2 separate regions of the Homo sapiens genome follow, and region 1 is linked to region 2. Evidence: fine-mapped expression QTL. A gene starts in region 2. The other region holds a variant in brackets. All regions are shown on one strand. Distances are between the middles of the regions.

Evidence for each region.
Region 1: its variant is fine-mapped to the expression of TBX19 in whole blood (TOPMed, PIP 0.91).

The regions. Positions count from the first base shown.
Region 1 is chr1:168,237,631-168,247,072 of GRCh38, reverse strand. SFT2D2 (SFT2 domain containing 2) reads right to left here. Exons shown (of 8, transcript NM_199344.3): 7 at 7,913-7,942; 8 at 1-4,572. The coding sequence ends at 4,533. It also overlaps the pseudogene ANKRD36BP1. Among named protein-coding and RNA genes, the nearest start is that of SFT2D2, 16 kb to the right of the region's middle. The variant G/A (reference allele first, on the strand shown) is at 4,177.
Region 2 is chr1:168,276,833-168,286,274 of GRCh38, reverse strand. TBX19 (T-box transcription factor 19) reads right to left here and starts at 5,398. Exons shown (of 8, transcript NM_005149.3): 1 at 4,982-5,398. The coding sequence starts at 5,184. RefSeq lists an enhancer at 589-1,090.

The DNA.
Region 1 (9,442 bases), 39 kb after region 2:
AAATATCACAGAATATCAAAAACTTGAATGGGAACAAGAACTCTGCAGTTTGAGATTTCTGATAGTCATGAAAAAGAAGAAGACCTGTTGCATAAAAACCATTTGATGCAAGATGAAATTGCCAGGCTCAGGCTGGAAATACACACAATAAAAAATCAAATCCTGGAAAAGAAATACTTAAAAGACATTGAAATTATAAAAAGAAAGCATGAAGACCTTCAAAAGGCTCTAAAACAGAATGGGGAAAAATCAACAAAAACGATAGCCCATTATAGTGGACAGCTTACTGCTCTGACAGATGAGAACACAATGCTCCGTTCTAAACTGGAGAAGGAAAAACAAAGCAGGCAAAGACTGACGAAATGGAATCATACCATCGTAGACTGAATGTTGCTCTACATGATCATGATCAAAGTCACTCAACAGAAAGAGACCAAGAGCTTGATTTCCAGGGCACAGTAGATAAATTGCGTCATTTACAGGAAAATTTGAATTCTCATGTTCTGATTCTTTCTCAGCAACTTTCTAAAGCTGAGAGTAAGTCCAGGTGCCTCAAAACTGAGCTCCATAACACAAGAGAGGCTCTGAAAGAAAACGCTTTGGTTTTTGAACACATACAAAGAGAGCTAAACCAAACGGTGTCAAATGAAGGACATTGAAAAAATGTACACAAGTGGCCAAGATAAAGTAGAAAAATGCACAGAAAAGCAAGTAAGATTATGTCAACTACGAAGACAAAATATGTTGCTTCAACAGCAACTGGATGATGTTCACAACAAAGCTGACAATCAAGAAAAAACAGTAATTGATAGTCAAGCCAAATGTGATGCTACAGCACAAAATCTTCAAGCTGAGTGCATAAAGCACCGTCTTTTGCTAGAAGAACAAGAGGATGATCAATAAAGTTAATCATTTGAAAGAAAAACAATGTCAATATGAAAGAGAGAAAGCAGAAAGAGAAGTAGTTGTGAGACAACTTCAACAAAAACAGGGTGACGTCCTAAACAATCAACAACAAAAGCTTTGCTGGATGCTTCATTGCGTCACTGCGTCCATTGAGAAAGTGAGATGTAGGATTCAAGGAAGAAATTAGGTCAGATGAGAATTCAATTTCAAGAAAAATGGAATCAACTTACAGCGACTATAAAATGTACTAAGGAGACGCAAGGCCACGTACAAAAACTTGAAATAGAAAATTCTAGTGTTAAGAAATACAATTAAAAAGCAAGATGGCCAAATTGAGCAGCTTCAGAAAATCCTGCGAAGTTCAAGTTTGATGCAGCAGTTATTGCAAGAAAATGAAACTACAGAAATAGATGAAGCTTCTTCTGAATTTAAATCTGGATCCTCTGTAGCAGAGGTTCCCAACCTACAGGCCATGGACAGGTCCATGACCTGTTAGGAACCAGCTGCACAGCAGGAGAGTTACTGTGGATCTTCTAGATCATCTGCATGCCATGTGAATCTTAAAACCAGTTTTTAATTTCTACAAAAAAAAAAAAAAAAAAGCCTGCTTGGCTTTGGATGGGGACTGCATTATATCTATAGATTAATATGGGAAAGAATTAACATCAACAATGTTGAGTCTCTCAACCTATCAACAAGATATTTACTTAGGTCTTAATTTTTCTTAGCAATGCTTTTTAGTTATCAGTGTACAGATAATCCACATAGTTTGTCGGGTTTATTCCCAAGAATTTTATATTTTAATGCTATTGTAAATGGTATTATTTTTAAATTTTCAATTCCTAATTCTTTACTTCTAACATGGAGAAACACAATTGATTTGTGTATATCAATTATATATCCTGCTGTGTTGCGAAACTCACTTGCTGGTTTCAGTAACTTAGTAATGGATTTGATTTGGTTTTCTACATAGATGATAATATCTGTGAATAGACAGTTTTACTCATTTCTTTTCAATCTAAAGGCCTTTCATTTTTCTCCTTCCCTCCCTCTTTCCCCCTACTCCCAATTAAAACATGATTGCAGTGGCTAGAATTTTCAGTACAACGTTGAATAGAAGTGGTAAGAGTTGACATCTCTGTCTTATTCTCAATCTTAGGGGAAAACATTCAGCCTTTCATCATTACATAGGATGTTAGCAGTAGATATTTTAAAGATGCCCTTCGACAGGTTGAGGAAATTCTCTTGTATCCCTAGTTTGCTGAGATTATTTTTTAAACAAAGCATGGTTGTTCAATCTAAAAAAAAAAAAAGGACATGGACATGGAGGGATGAGCCTTCTAGGTGTCTTATTCCAGGCTGCTGGAGCTGCTGGAGCTCACAGTGACTAGCCAAGCCTCGTATCAGTTCTAAAGAAAAGGAACCATGAGCCCTCCTGACCTCCTCCATGTCCCTTCTGACACCACAGCCCTTCTGAGATCTGTCTCCAAGAGGCACCTGGGATGTGAAAGAATCCCACAAAAGCCAGAGGGGTAGCATAAAATTTCCTTTCCTGGCTGAGGACAGGTTAGTGACCTGAGCAGATGACTGGATGTCATCAATAGCCTAGAAAGAACCTGGGAAGACTAGCTCCTCTCTCTGGCCCCGTCAGGCTTGTTCACACCTCCCCAGCCTCAGAAGAAAAGATCAGCAGGGCACAGTGGCTCACACCTGTAATCCCAGCACTTTGGGAGGTCAAGGTGGGCGGATTACCTGAGGTCAGGAGTTCCAGACCAGCTTGGCCAACATGGTGAAACCCTGTCTCCACTAAAAACACAAAAATTAGCACGGGCGTGGTGGCGGGCACCTGTAATCCCAGCTACTTGGAAGGCTGAGGCAGGAGAATTGCTTGAACCCGGGAGGTGGAGGTTGCAGTGAGCAGAGATCACGCCACTGCACTCCAGCCTGGGCGACGGAGTGAGACTCCATCTCAAAAAGAAAAAAAAAAAAAAACCAGTCAGAGTTCTTAGCCACAGTAGGACAAAGAAAGGTTCAGCAATTAGCCACAAGAAAGGGGACAACCAGCAGGCCACTTCCTTTGGTTTAGCAGTGACAGAGGAGGAGCCCTAGTGGACCAGTTGGCCCTGTGCAAAGAACAGAAAGGCAATCCAGATAAACGTCATTTGTAGGATGACTCTGGAGGTCCTGGAGGGCCAGGAATGCTGGCTGACAAGACAGGGCACTAATCGTAGTCAGGCAACAAGGAGGAGCTGAAAGGGAACACAAGGGACAGTGAACATCCTGCAGATCCAGGAAGAAGCTTCCAAAAGAGATGGGCAGGGAGGGCCAGGGAGGAGATGGCTTGGCTGATGAAAACGAGGGAAACAGTCACAGGCAGTTACAGGAGGCACAACCAGAAACAGGCCAGGAAACTCTGGGGTCATGAAGGAGGCTGAAGCTGTGGCTTTGGGTGGATCCAAAAACCAGTGTGGGCCTTGATTCCCTTGACTGCACAGTGGTATAACAATCCCTGCTTCCTCACAAGGCTCTCCATAAGAACCAGGTAAGATCGTGGACACAAAAGCACTTTGTAGGTTAGGCATCAGGCTGACATGAGACCACCTGCAGTTTATCCCCAGTGTCCCCAGCACAGGCTAAGTGCAAACACTGGGACTATTTAAAGGTCACTGGGCAGGCGTGCCTACTTCCTGCTGGCTGCACAGCAGGGATCTGTCTTCCCACCCCACTCTCCCCTGGCCCAACTCCAGGGGAGAATGGAAAATAAAATCAGTTTAAAAGCAAACATTTATAAATAATGGAGAAAAAAATATAGCTGAGAGCAGCAGGATTTTTCAACTCCTATGGGCTCTCGTCCAAAAAAAAAACAGCAGCATTTTCTGCTGCTGCTCTGTTCTTTCCCCATCTAGTGCCAGGAGGTCATAAAGAAAGATATGCAGGGAGAGGGAGGGAGGGATGGGAAATAAAACCCAAGAGAAAAAGAGTCTGCACCTAATGTCAGAAAATACATTCCACAGTCAGGCGCAGAATCAGAACACCAAGAATGCTTAGATTCAAATTCAGAAACAGCATATACCACCAAAAAGTGCTTCTTTTCTACCTCACTCCATGGCCAGGCTCTCCAGGGGCTTGTCTAAAGCAGAGTCACTTGTTCTCAGATGCCAGAGTAGAAGCAGACTCACTCTATGCAGGACCACGGTGATGGCTTCCATGCTGAGGGACAAGTGGACCCCAAAACTCTGTCCCTTACTGTTGCTCCCGTGATCTCTGATG[G/A]GGCTGCCTTTTGCCACCTGGGAATCACTTGCACCCAAGGCTTATGTGCTGTTGCTGAATAGGTTTGTATTCATGGGAATTCAGTGGGACAACATCCAGAGAGGAAACAGGTACATGAGGAAGATTCCACTCCACAAGATACAGAACCCACTTCTCATCCTGTGCTACTGACATTCAGGTTCGAGAATGTATTGTTGCTTCCAAAAGTAACCCTCAAATGTTCGAATCACAAGCAACACATTGCTGCAAGATAAAAGGCACATGTCTGTAAGACAGAGGTTTCGAAGATAGTTACAAAACTGTCCACCAGCTTCTGTCCATAGTGCCTTCCAAAGCTTCATAAAACTGGCCATGAATTATGCAAGACACACGGCAAAACACTTCTTCACAGCATCCCTAGGAAAGAAAAGACACAAAGATGAGTGGAACGTCATCACCCCAAAGGCACTCCTTTAGAGGGCACCCAGAGTGGAAGCTGCAGAGTAGAAAGCACCTAGACTGAAAGATCAGACCTTCACAGCATCAAACTGCAGCTTCAACATTTATTAGTAGTACTATCCTGGGAAAGTTCCTTGTCCTGTTTGAGTTTCAAATTCCTCATCTGTAAGAGGGGATGTCCCCACTTACCCGACAGTCTGATTATGGGATTAGCCATCATAATCAGAGAAAAAGATAACATAGACTGTCAGAAACTAAGAAATCAGTCAGGATTGCTGCACTTTAATATCGGTCAAAATCACAGAATGCACTGACAGCATTAAATCAAATATTAACTGGGACCTTTCTTCATTCTAAGCAGGCAGCAGAAGGGAGCTCACTATGGGTCCTGAGCACTTATTAATATGCTATAATGGCCTTATCACAGGTATTTACTGCTTGGAATTCAGTGTAGAGGGTGCAAGGAAGAGTTGGTCTTCAAGAAATTACTATTCTACCCAAGCAAGCACTTCCATTTCCACCACCACACCACACTGTGCAATGTGGCACTAGGCTTCTCATACCCCAGCTCTGTTCCACGTTCTCAACTGTGCTGCACTAAGGACATTGGGAGTCACATAAGGGAGGGAGAGGTGAATGGATGCATTTCCATGAGTAGGCACTGCATTTTAATATCAAGATGGTTCCAGGGCAGCATTTCTTGAGATATACTCTGCACTGTAGTCTCAGAAGAGTCTCTGCACAAGAAGGGTTTTATGGCCACATAAGTCCCCCTCATGGCAGCTCACAATACACATAGCATATGGAAGGATCTAGCAAGCCAGGCAAAGAGGAACCTACCTAATTTTGCTTAACCTGTTTCTCAAACTTACTTGATCATAGAACTCTTTTCTTCCACAGAAACACTATTTCTGTGGAACACTGTGGGAAAAGCTATTCCAGGGGAACTTACAAATAGAAGGGTGGGGCCAGGCATGGTGGTTCGGACCTGTAAACCCAGCACTTTGGGAGGCCGAGGTGGGCCAATCACTTGAGGTCAGGAGTTCGAGACCAGCCTGGCCAACACGGTGAAACCCCATCTCTACTAAAAATACAAAAAATGAGCCTGGCATGGTGGCGTGCACATGGAGGCTGAGGCAGGAGAACAGCTTGAAGCCAGGAGGTTGGAGACTGAGGTGAGCTGACATCGGGCCACTGCACTCCAGCCTGGGCCATAGAGTGAGACTCCATCTCAAAAAAAAAAAAAAAAAAAAGAATAGAAGGGTGGGATCTAGCTCTGTGATTCCCTCCCTACTAGAGGAGTAATTCGTCTCCTCAGCACATGAAACTCACTATCTCAAATAAAATTCCCTCATTCTATCAATCACTTGTACATAAATTTTATACATGCCAATCCAGATCAAGACTGAAGCTCTGACAAATGACTCCAAGCAAGTTTCACGAATGAGACCTGTGCAACTGCATTGGCCCCATACTCAGAAGGGTCCACATTGGGTTTAATGCCTTGATTTGATGTTGCCATCTTGAAATTCTTAATCTTTTTTTTTGAGACAGAGTCTCCCTCTGTTGCCCAGGCTGGAGGGCAATGGCGTGATCTCGGCTCAGTGCAACCTCCGCCTCCCAGGTTCAAGCGATTCTACTGCCTCAGCCTCCTGAGTAGCTGGGATTACAGGTGCACGCCACCACGCTCGGTTAATTTTGGTATTTTTAGTAAAGACAGGAGTTCACCACGTTGGTCAAGCTGGTCTTGAACTCCTGACCTCGTGATCCGCACACCTCAGCCTCCCAATGTGCTGGGATTATAGGCTGAGCTACCGTGCCCGGCCTATGATTTTTGAACAAGAAGCTCACATTTTTATTTTGCACTGGGCCCTGAAAACTATGCAGCTGGTTCAGGGACCAAAAAATATTCATATGTTGGCAGGTTGATCAATATCTCATTGGATCCTCAGTAATGATGAACTCCGGTTTACTTCACATAAAAATCTAGCTTCCCAGGACATCCCTGCCCATATTCTTCTCAGACAAGCCACCAGGCCCCAAAACCAGCCAGGTCTGCATGGAGTATTTCATAACTGTTACCCTCCTAGAATCTATCAACAAAGCCACTCAGCTGCCTTTCACTTGAAAGGCTTAACTTCGCATCCAATCAATCACTCCTCAATACTTTCAAATCACTGTCAGCAACAGTCTTGGAATTTGTTAAGACATAAGATTGCTCTTCCTCCTTCCCAAGTCATGCATAATTTTTCATTTCCTCAGTACTTTTTTTTTTTTTTTTTTTGAGACAGAGTCTCGCTCTGTCGCCCAGGCTGGAGTGCAGTGGCGCCATCTCGACTCACTGCAAGCTCCGCCTCCTGGGTTCACGCCATTCTCCTGCCTCAGCCTCCCAAGTAGCTTCGACTACAGGCGCCTGCCACCACGCCCAGCTAATATTTTGTATTTTCAGTAGAGACGGGGTTTCACTGTGTTAGCCAGGATGGTCTCGATCTCCTGACAGCAGGATCCACCCGCCTCGGCCTCCCAAAGTGCTGGGATTACAGGCGTGAGCCACTGCACCTGGCCCAGTACAGTTTTTTTAAAAAGCTTGTTTTTAATTAACAGGTAATGATAAAAAAAAAAAAAAAAGAACAGAAGTTAAATAGTTGCATTAGAACAAAGTCAGAGGCAAAGATCATGCGGCTAATTTTGAGAGGTCCGTCACTGAAAGTGCTTAAAGAGGTATGGAGTATTAGAATTTCAGAGCTAAAAGAGGCCTCTGGAGATGATCTAGACCAACTCAGTCTACTTATCGATGCTTTGAGGCCAGAGGGGTCAAGAGAGCTGCTCGAGGTCACACTGCTAATTAGGAAGCCCTGGTACTGCTTACTCTCCCTTTATAAACTCTTGTGAAACCTTCCCAGCAGTGGGATACTGCAAGAAGCACGAATTGAGATCCCTCCATATCTTACTCAGTGATATGAAATGACATTCACCTTTATAAAAAAAAAAAAAAAAAAAACCCTACTCAAAGCTACGGGTTAAAAGAGTAATAATGTGCATATATGCACCATATATAAGAGTAGAATGTTCACAGCATTGGAAATCAGTGTACCTGGGTAAATATCCATCATTAGTTGTATAATTAGAGTGGGTGGTGGGGTGACCTTTAACTTACTTATCTATAAATGAGATGTATAGTATTTGTCTACTTGACTCAAAAGACTTCAGTAAAGATAAATAAAATAGGCTATACTCTCTGAAAGCAGACTCTGAATTAAAATGACAGAAATCATTATTTCCAAATACACAGTCTTACCTTGCAAATGGTATGAAGGAAAGGCTGTACCTATAATGAAAAACAAAACAAAGGGTCAAATGAGATGAAGGGAGTAGCAGATTATCCAGCAGAATGGGCTTCTGAGCTGTAAGAATACCTGCAGTGATCTATCCAGACCCTCTCCCATACTCAGCCTGGGGGATGAGCATGTGCACACAAAGGCCCACGCATGTGCATGCACGTGTACCCAAACACACACACTATGGCCATGTACAGATAGGCAGCCACAGAAGAAGGGCAAAAGGTTCATGTGGAGATAACCCGTATGACCTCGGCCTCAATGCAGTACTGCTATAACCTTGAACTAGCAACAATCACCTTAAACAGTCAGATTTCAAATACCCAGATGGCACAGAAACTCTATTCTGAAAAAATATCAAATAAAACCCAGAACAGTTGAACCGCACCCCCCTCCTTTATTTATTTATTTATTTTTTTTTTTGAGACAGGGTCGTGCTCGTCACCTAGGCTGCTGGAATATAGTGGCTCAATCATAGCTCACTGCAGCCTTGAATTTCTAGGCTCAAGTCTAGGAAGCTCAAGCAATCCCCCTGCCTCAGCCTCCAGAATTGCTGGGACTACAAGTATGTGCCACCATGCCCGGCTAATTTTTTAATGTTTTTTTTTGTTTGTTTGTTTGTTTTTTTGCAGAGACCCGGTCTTGCTACACTGTCCAGGCTAGTCTCAAACTCCTGGCTTCAAGCAATCCTCCCACCTCAGCCTCCCAAAGTCTTGGCATTACAGTGTGAGCCACCCATACCTGGCACAGTTGAACTCCTAACATTTTATAAATTCTAAACAGAATTTAACTTCTACCTAATTGGGATAAATTTTCTGCTCTGCTCCTATTAATTTTAAAAGAAGAGAAAAGAGAATAAAAAAGAAGAAGAAAAAAATGCTACCAACTACTCTATGAGTGAAAATGTAGTACGTCCAAAGGTATCTTGGTAAATTCCAGTTAGCTCAGCCCTGTCACTTAGAAGGAAACCATATACAAGGAACAGGCTCCATAATGCTAAAGAACCAGGCACTGTGTGTCAGGCAGACTGTAAGTTAGCCCTTAGAAAAGCAAACACAGTCAGAACACATGAGTGTTGAAGGGAATATCACCATTCAGCTGGACCCATATGAATGCTGAACCTCTGAAACTGGATTCAAAATCAGTCTATAAGCAAAGCAAGGTGTGTGTATATAGGTACCAATTTCTGCCCTGGAAGAAAAATCAAAATATAAACAGTCTACCACTCAAATGTGCATGTCATTTAAAAAAAAAAAAAACATACACACACACACACACATAAACACAAACACCAGCATCCTTCTCCATATCTTATACTTAACATGTACAGAAGCTCAATTACTTGTCAACACAGTAAATTCCAAAAGGCAATTTGTAACTATATTTATTCAAAAGTCCAAAATTGCTAAAGGGAGGGATGGGAGTTAAGCTTACAGTCTCAAGATTCATTTCTACCAAATAGGAGTTAACCAATTCTTCAGAACTTTAAA
Region 2 (9,442 bases):
GATGAGCTGTATGGCATGTGAATTATATCATCACAAAGCTGTTAATAAAAACAAAGAAGTCACAGTGTCTTGTCTCTTAGAAGGAGGACATATCTGGGAAATGGTAGAATGATTAATTGCTCTATTTTCTTTAGTATTGCATTTGCCAAGAACTTTATAATTATTTTTTGTTTTTATCACTACGTAAATAAACTGAGAAATGACTATTTTTTAATCCATTCCCTATTTTAATACATTTTTTAATACATTCCCTATTATGGCAATGAGGAATAAATAAAAGTCAGTCAACTTGCCTAAGGTCTTGTAACTGGGAATGGAACTCACCCTGCCTCCAAGCCAAGTTCCCCTCCTCCCACCCCACTTTCCCCTCTTTTGTCTCACAATGACAGGGATGCATTATCTAGGGATCCAGTAACTAATTGATCTGTGATTACCACTCGTGATCAGGCTTTATTTTCAGGAATTAACTGCACTTCCAATCAAGGTGATTTTTTTCCCCATTTTTTTCCTAGATGTAGCTAACATAGAGAAACCCAGAGTGTGAGGGATAAGAAATATGTAAATCAGTCCCTAAGTAACAGCATAATTTCACTTAATCCACCCTGGAGAGAAAGCCTCCTTGGAGAGAAAGAGAGGAAAATGTGGCAGGGTAAATAAGCACTCCTCAAGAAAACCACACCTGAAGAACCACAGGTGGTTGGGCTTTGCCCATAAACTGTTGGGCTTTTATTATGAGACCAGCTTTCCAGTTTTATTTCACTGACAGGGAATCTCCAGAAGTCAGTGCTGCTGGAGGAGGCTATGAGAAGTGAGGTTTGCAAGAAGAAAGAGGGGCAGAGATGAGGCAGATTTTACAGGTGAGGGAACAGCAGAGAGTTAAAAGCAAATTCAAAAAGTTAAACTTGTAAACACTTTCCTCCATCTCTCCTCAAAACTCTACTATTTATCAAATACTCATCAGAACTTTTAGAGGGGTGTGTGTGTGTGTGTGTGTGTGTGTGTGTGTGTGTGTGACATACATGGTGCATGGATGCTGACATTTATGTGAAGGTGAGCAGGCATAAGAATAGCAACAGGTGTCAATTAAAGATAAATAAACGAAGGGAAAAAAACAACAGCATTAGGGAAGCAAGGTGGCCTGGTTAAAGGCAGATTACATAAATACATATGATCTTCTTGAGCTGTAATTTTAAACTTCAGAGAAAAATACCCATGGGCTGTAGGGACATGGAAATGTATTGGCCTGATGTGCAACTTTACTTTTCTCCTCTCTTGTACTGCCCTTACTGGAGACTATGAACAGCAACTCAGTGGCACTGCACCAATACCCCTTAATCATCAAGCACTGGTGAATCATCGAAACTAATCGGCAAATTTAAACTTAGTAATTCCCACCTCTTATTTTATGATGACAAGAAATATGGCATTTTCCCCTTAGGTGAAAATGTTACAAGTAAAGAAAACAAAAGCAAGAGATTTGATTTTTTTTTTTTTTTTTTTTTTTTTGAGACACGGTCTCACTCTGTTGCCCAGGCTCGTGTGCAGTGGTGTGATCACTGCAACCTTGACCTCCCCAGGGTCAGGTGATCTCCCACCTCAGCCTCCCAAGTAGCTGGGACTACAGGTAGGTGTCACCATGCCCAGCTAATTTTTTGTATTTTTTGGAGAGACAGGGTTTCTCCATGTTGCCCAGGCTGTTCTAAAACTTCTGAGCTCAAGTGATCAACCTACCTGGGCCTCCTGGCTAGTTGTTTAAATTTTTTGTAGAGAAGAAGTCTCCCTATACTGCCCAGTCTGGTTTCAAACTCCTGGGCTCAAGCAATCCTCCCACTTCAGCCTCCCAAAGTTCTGGGATCACAGACATGAGCTGCCATGCTAGCAAGCAATTTAATTTATTAACCTCTGAAGTCTGAAATGAATTCTTTCTGCAAACTAAAGTATAAGTTTCCAGCTTAAAGGATGGACATGAAAGGGAATACTGGCTGGATACACTAGAGATGACTCAAATGAGCTCTAAGGAGGTATTATACTTATTACTGTTATATCTAAAGGACTATTAACTATGAATAACTGAAAGTTTTCAATTTTAAAAAGAGAGGGAGGAAGAAAAGGCTGAAAGGGAAATGAAGTAGTAGAATGGGGGAGGGGAGAGAAAGAAAGAAAAGGAGGAAGAGAGAGAGAGAAAGGAAGGAACGAAAGAAGAGAGGCCAACATCAGGATCCCAGTTTCTGGAGATAATTCCGTGTTTTTCAGAGAAAAGCCTTTCTCTTTACAGCTTCTGATCAATGTCAGAGGCAAGCTTCCTATTTATATATGTGAAAGTAGATCTCCACTTGACAATGAGTCTTTTCACTCTTTCATCGGCCCATCTTACGCTATTTCAAGATTTGCTATTTTAGTGCAGAACAATGAGACCTCAAGTGTATAGGAGTTACCACCCCAAATGATGCTTTTTTAAAAAGTCAAGGTGACAATGTCAATGAAAAAGGGCCCAGGTGACATTATGAATGAAAAAGGCTAGGACTGGGTAATCATACCAGGAACATTCTTCTCCACAGGGAAGGGCCACAAATCTACCTGCACCAGGTGCGGGAGTTGATGTGGAGGGCAAGGATTTGAAGGAGACACAAAGAGTCTATAGACATAGGAGAATGGGTAGAAAGGAGGCATAGAGGAATAAATAGTTAGGGAGAAAAGAGAGAAGGAAGAAGGGAGTAAAGAAGATGAAGCAAGAAAGATGTCTATATTAACAAAGGTAAAGTGTGACTAATGGTTTAATCTGAGAAACTAAGAGGTTGGGGGTAATTTCAGACCAAGTTCATTCATTATTAAGTACATCAATTTCTTATGGACTTGTCTTCCCTTCTTTAATCAAAGTATAAAGGAAACTTTCTATCTCCTGGCAAAATCTTGACCCTAAAGGGCTCCGAGAGCTTAGGAGAATTTAAGAAAAAGATTTCATCTATAGGAAGACGGCAAACACAGCAGGACATCCATAGATAAGAACAGCCAAGTTCACCGCAATCAGACTTTTTCTACAAAGAATATTGTTCATGTAGCTAATATTAAATGACGTTAAAGATGAAGGATTTCATTTTGCTTTTTAAAGACAGGGTCTCACCGTGTTGCCCAGACTGATCCCGGGCTCAAGGACCCCTTGCCTCAGCCTCCTGCGTAGCTGGGACAACAGGAGCACACCACCACACTGGGCTGATGTGAAGAATATTACATTTTAAATATAGGGGAAAATTACATAGGCAATAAAAAGGCAAGATAAAACTTTTCTTAAATGGTAAAAGTACATTCCAATGTAACATATTATTAAATTGGAATTTATCATGGTTTCAGAAACTTTTATTATTTATTCCTTATTGAAATAGATGAACCATATATTGACTTGGTAATTGTACTTATTTTTACTTTAATAAATGGCCAATTTGACAGCCCAATCAATAGCATAAGGCTAGGTATTACTGTAATTAGTATCCAATAATACAAAGAAAAATAAGCAGAATGTTCTACCTATAATCAGATATAATAAAATTTTTACAGTTGCATCTTTGCCCATTTTTAAAGGGTCAGAGACTAAATCCAATTAAGAATTTGGTGTAATTCTGTGAAATTAAAACTATGTTTTATGTTTTCTTCTATGAAAGAAGCTAAAAATAATGTGTAAATACAGGTCAAGAGAAGGAACTATAATTACAGTAACAATATTAAAAGCAATAAATCTATATGAAATAAGTGTGGAACCCATTTTGAGAAAGAAAATATAAAAATCAAGCAAGGTTGATATTCCTGCTACTGGTATAATCGCAATTTCTTGAAATGCCCTAATTCAGGTATGGCTTTCATTTTAGAAAGCATTTTAATGCCATGTAACAGCTCTCGAGTTCATAACTCTTCAAGATTGACAAGAAATAGTTCATTTTCTATACTGTGCTTTATTAAAATATAGAAAACCGAGACATCAGGAACGGAAGCACTTTGCACAAGGACAAAAGCCTGACAGAAAGAAGTTCAGATGGCCTCGGCTCTTCTCTTTTATCAGAATTCTCTCGAGGGTGTCATAATTAGAGTTCAGCCAAAACTAAGCCTACTGAAAATGCCTTTCAGCATTTTGTACTTTTGTGACCATGTGTATGAAAAGCTATGTGAACACCAGCTGAATGTTGGAGCCAGTTTGGCCAAGCTGCGAGCGGTGAGATTTTGTTTCAAAATATTTGCGTCTCCTCTACGAAGTGAAATCTTCTAATATTACCTGGACAGCCCCTTAGCAGACTAGGTTTAATAGAATCTGAGAAATGCCACCAGAGATCAGTTTCAGTTAATCCCTAAATTTGTTGCACTGATAAGAAAGAAGGCATCTTCTTTTCTCTAAAGCAGAATAATATGTTTTCATCCACTATTACTGCAACAGCTTTCATATCATCACAAACACACACAATCTCAAATGAACACTCACCACAAACACACACGGGGAAGCAGATGAAGTGATAGGCAATGAGTTTACATTTGCCCTTTTGCTTCCAATCTTCAACTAGCCAAACATTTCTGGCAAGTTTGCTATACTTAGGAGGAGATCATCCAGCTTCCAAATAAAGTTGTCTTTCACCTTATCTGGACGGAGTTGGGGCTCAGGTCTGCGATAGGGTATGCAGCTAGTCACAAATTAATATTATTTTCTGACATTTAAGTCCATTTTCCCATCCCAATGGGGCATGCCCCCCACTTTATGGTAATTTCCCCAGAATTTCTCCATTTAAAATGCACATAAGACAGGTGGCTTCATCCTCTGATGATCTCAGATAAATTAATTAAGTTGGCTGGAGGAAAGCCATTGGAGACAGTCGTTCCTGTAAGCATGTTTAATCAGATCCCGCCGCCTCTGAGTGAAGAGCGGCAGCCTCTTCAATATTCAAGGGGTCTCATCTCTCCTGCCAAGCCCTGCCAGCCCACGCGGGGCGGCAGATAAACTCACCTGCCATTCTTGGTCACAATCATCTCATTAGTGACTTCCTTGAATCTCTGCCAGAGAGGTGCATCCTCCAGGATGATCTGAAGTTGCTTCTCCGTAGGGTCGCCTTTTTCCCTCCCTGCCTGAAGCTCACTCTCCACCACATTGAGCAGATGAGAAACAGTGCCATCGCTGGGCTTCCGAGTGCCCAGCTCACTCATGGCCATAGGCACTTCTCGAACTTTGCCGAGAGCCGTTACCCAACTTGCCTGCTTCTAGCTTCTTCCTTCCCTCACTTGCCTGCTTTTCAAACCCACTTGAACAGTGCTTGGGGAGCGGAGAGAAGATACCCTGGCTCTTGCCTAAGCTCCTAGGATGACACCCCTTAAAAGTCTCCACATTATGCCACCAACCTGTTAAGCTTTAGTTGGGGAGCGGGGTGGAGGCAGGGGAGAGGTAGGGAAGAAAAAGCCCTCTCTTAATTACTCATTGGATCAGGTGGGAGAGAGCCTGGCTTTCCCATTGGCTGCCGTGCACAGAGTAGATATTTAAGAAGAGTACTCCATCCAAATTATCAGGCTTTTATCTTGTTGTACCTGAAGAGGTCTAATCGGTGTATTGAGGACCATTTTCCCATTAATTAAAATTATTCCAGGCCCAGACTGCACTGTCAGGCAAATCATGTTTGTGCATAAATCATGACATGTGGCACCTATAAAGAAAAGGGTCCTGGGGAGAATCGACAAACTTGATGCCCAGGCTATAAGCTACTCTCCAGCATCTTAGACGAAGGCTCTGGAGGGAAGAAAGCATGTATGGAAGGTCCAAGGCACTGTGCCAAGAAACATGACTACTGTACCAGAGAATAAAGGAAGACACTCTGTGTGCCACTGCTCAAGGGTCAGGGCTCCGGAGAAAAGAAAAGAGCTCAGAATCTCTTTCTCCCAGGGTGTCCCCTACTGATCATCTCTCTCCTGAATGTCCTATACTCGCTCACACCCCACTTTTCTCAAGGGCCCTCCTCACCTCCTACAAATGGAGCTGTGAATGTTGTCCTTCCTCCCTAGAGTCTAGAACCCCAATTTTTGTTATCTCTAGCCTTTGCCAGAGGAAGACAAAAAAGCAGCTAGTATCATATTAATCTCGCTAAGGAACACTCTGCCCCCAGTCAGTGAAAATAAACTGTTTACATTATTAGGCAGAGCAATTTCAATCTTTGGTCCAGAAAGGCATTCTGGTTTTCTCTTTAGACAATTCATCCTTATTTTGGCATTCCAGGATGAATCCCACATTCCCTGGGAAGAAACACTAGTAGAAAGCTTTTCTTTTGCCCACAACACACAGTACTAATGGCGAGTGAGTGGATGGCGGGTGGAAGAGACAGGAGCAGAGGAAGCTCTACCTCCTCTGGCCCCCAACCTTGAGTAGAGCCTGGGGGTTGTGAGTTTTTCTCTCATTTCAATACAAAGTAAGAAAACAAGAACATAAGGAAAACAAACCCAAAAAGGTAAGATAAAGTCAGGGTAAGGATGACAGAAAATGTATTCAGGATCTCCTATGCTACATACCTATGAAGCATCACATACAGCAAGGAACAAACAGAAATGGCCTGCGCCTTTACAGAATTAACAATATGATGGAGAAAATAAATGATATAAAGTAAACAACAACTAAGTAATTATCAATAGTGATAAGTCTATGAAGGCTACTTAAAAGGGTGAAGTGATCAAGAAAAATTTGTGCACAGCAGGGTAGGGAACTCCAGTTAGATGGAGTTGTATAGAACAGCTTCTTTGAGGAGGAGACATTTCAGATGAGACCAAAAGCTCAGCAAAGATGTAGTCGGGGAAGAGTTGGCAGAGTGCCAAGCAGAAGAATTACATGTGAGAAGCATGGCTTGAGCCAGGTAGAAATCTCCAGGGAGGCCAGTGTGACCAGAATGTGGTGGTAAAGAGAGCAGAATGAGATGTTCTTTGAGAGAGGGCCAGGCCAGACCATGAGGCCTTAGAAGTCATGATGAAGAATTTGAATGTTCTTCAGCATGAGATAGGAAACAATTGGAGAGTATTAAGTAGGAAAACAGCATGATTGGCTTTGTGTTTGCAAAAAATCTAATCGATTTGTGAAGAATAGACTAGGAAAGGGCAAGAGCTGAAGTAAAGAACAAATTAGAGGCTATGACAGCAATTCAGGCAAGAGCTGGTGATGGCTTAGCCTAGGGTAGTGGCAGTGGCCAAAAAATGAAGTGTACAGGTTCTAGATACACTTTAGAAGTCTATATGACAGAACAACATGAGAGACTGGATATGGGGGTGAGGGAGAGCAGAGAACCATGTGCCTGATCAGAACAATTATTAGATGGCAGGGCCATTTACTGAGATATGGAAGGTGAGGGAGGTGGAAGGGTAGGCAGAGGTACAGTTTGGTTAGGAGACTCAAACATTTCAGTTTCATACAGCTAACACTGAAAAGAATGTGGCAGGCTGAATAAGGACCCCCTGCAAAAGAGACCCATTTCCGAATCCCCAGAACCTGTGAGTGTATTACCTCACATGGGAAAAAGGGACTTTTCAAATGTGATTCAGTTAAGGGTCTTGAGATGGGGAGATTAACCTGGGTTATCTGGTGAGCCCAGTGCAATCGCAAAAATAAGAGGGAGGCAGGAGGATCAAAGTCAGAGGAAGAAGATGTAAGGACAGATGCAGAAGTCAGAGGGGAGAGAAGATGCTACACTCCTGGCTTTGAAGATGGAAAAAGGGGCCAGAAGACACGGAATGTAAGAAGTCTCTAGAAGCTGGGAAAGATAAGGAAATAGATTATCCTCTAAAGCCTCCAGAAGGAACATAGTCCTGCTGACACCTTGGCTTTAGTCCAGTGAAACTAATTTTGGGCTTCTGATTCCCCAAACTGTAAGATAATAGGTTTATGTTGTTTTAAACCACTAAGTTTGTGGTAATTTGGTACAGCAGCAATAGGAGACTAATGCAAAGACTATTAGGTATATAAGTGGAGATTTTGAGAAGGCGCTGCTTAGAACTGTGACACAATTGTGGCTCTGAGCTTCCAAGCAGCCAATGCAAAGTGGGGGAATATAATCTGGCATACATTAAACTGTGTCCCTAAAATAAAAGCAAGCCTTGACCTGTGAGAAATTTCCCCCATAAATCTTTATGAGGAAAACGCTGTGAGATACAGTGAACAATGTCTCCCCAAACAGTCTACCAGTAAGATAAAAATCTTTCCTTCAAATAGTTTTACAATCTAGAAGGGACAGAAAGACACGCTTGTGGAATTCCAATACAGAAATGTGAAGTGTTCTGAAGCACCAGTAAGGGAGAAATGAAGAAAAAACAGAACTAAGACTGGAATATGACAAGGATGACCACTTACACTACTGTTATTCAACATAATACTAGAAGTTCTAGCTACAGCAATCAGACAAGAGAAAGAAGTAAAAGACATCCAAACTGGAAAGCAGGAGGTCAAATTATCCTTGTTTGCAGATGATATGATCTTATATTTGGAAAAAACTAAAGACTCTGCCAAAAAACTATTAGAATATATAAACAAATTCAATAAAGTTGCAGGATACAAAATCAACATACAAAAATCAATATAGCACTTCTATAGGCCAACAGTGAACAATCTGAAAAAGATATCAAAAAAGTAATCCCATTTACAACAGCTACAAATAAAATAAAATATCTAGGAATAATCTTAACCAAAGAAGTGAAAGATCTCTACAATGAAAACTATAAAACATTGATGTAAGAAATAGAAGAGTACATTAAAAAGTGGGGAGATAAACCATGTTCATGGACTGGAAGAATCAATATTGTTAAAATGTCCATACTACACAAAGCACTCTACAGATTCAATGCAAGCCCAATCAAAATATCAATGACATTCTTCACAGAAATAGAAAAAAAAATCCTAAAAATTCATATGGAACCATAAAAGATGCAGAATAGCCAAAGCCATCCTGAGCAAGAAGAAAAAAAACTGAAGGAATCATATTACCTGACTTCAAATTATACTAAAGAGATATAGTAACCAAAACAGCATGGTACTGGCATAAAAACAGACACATAGACCAATGGAACAGAATAGAGAACCCAGAAATAAATCCTACAGTGAATTCATTTCCGACAGAGGTGCCAAGAACATACATTGGAGAAAGGACAGTCTCTTCAATAGATGGTGCTGACACGAACTGGTAAACCTAAAAGAAATGACCAAATTCCTGAAAACATACAACCTCCCAAGACTGAACCAGGAAGAAATTGAAAGCCTGAACAGATCAATAACAAGTTTCAAAATTGAATTAGTAATAAAAAAATTACCAACCAGAAAAAGCCCTGGGCCAGATGGATTTACAGTTGATTTCTACCAGACATATAAAGAGCTGGTACCAATCCTACTGAAACTATTTCAAAAAATAGAGGAGGAGGAACTCTCCCTAACTCATTCTATGAGGCCAGCATC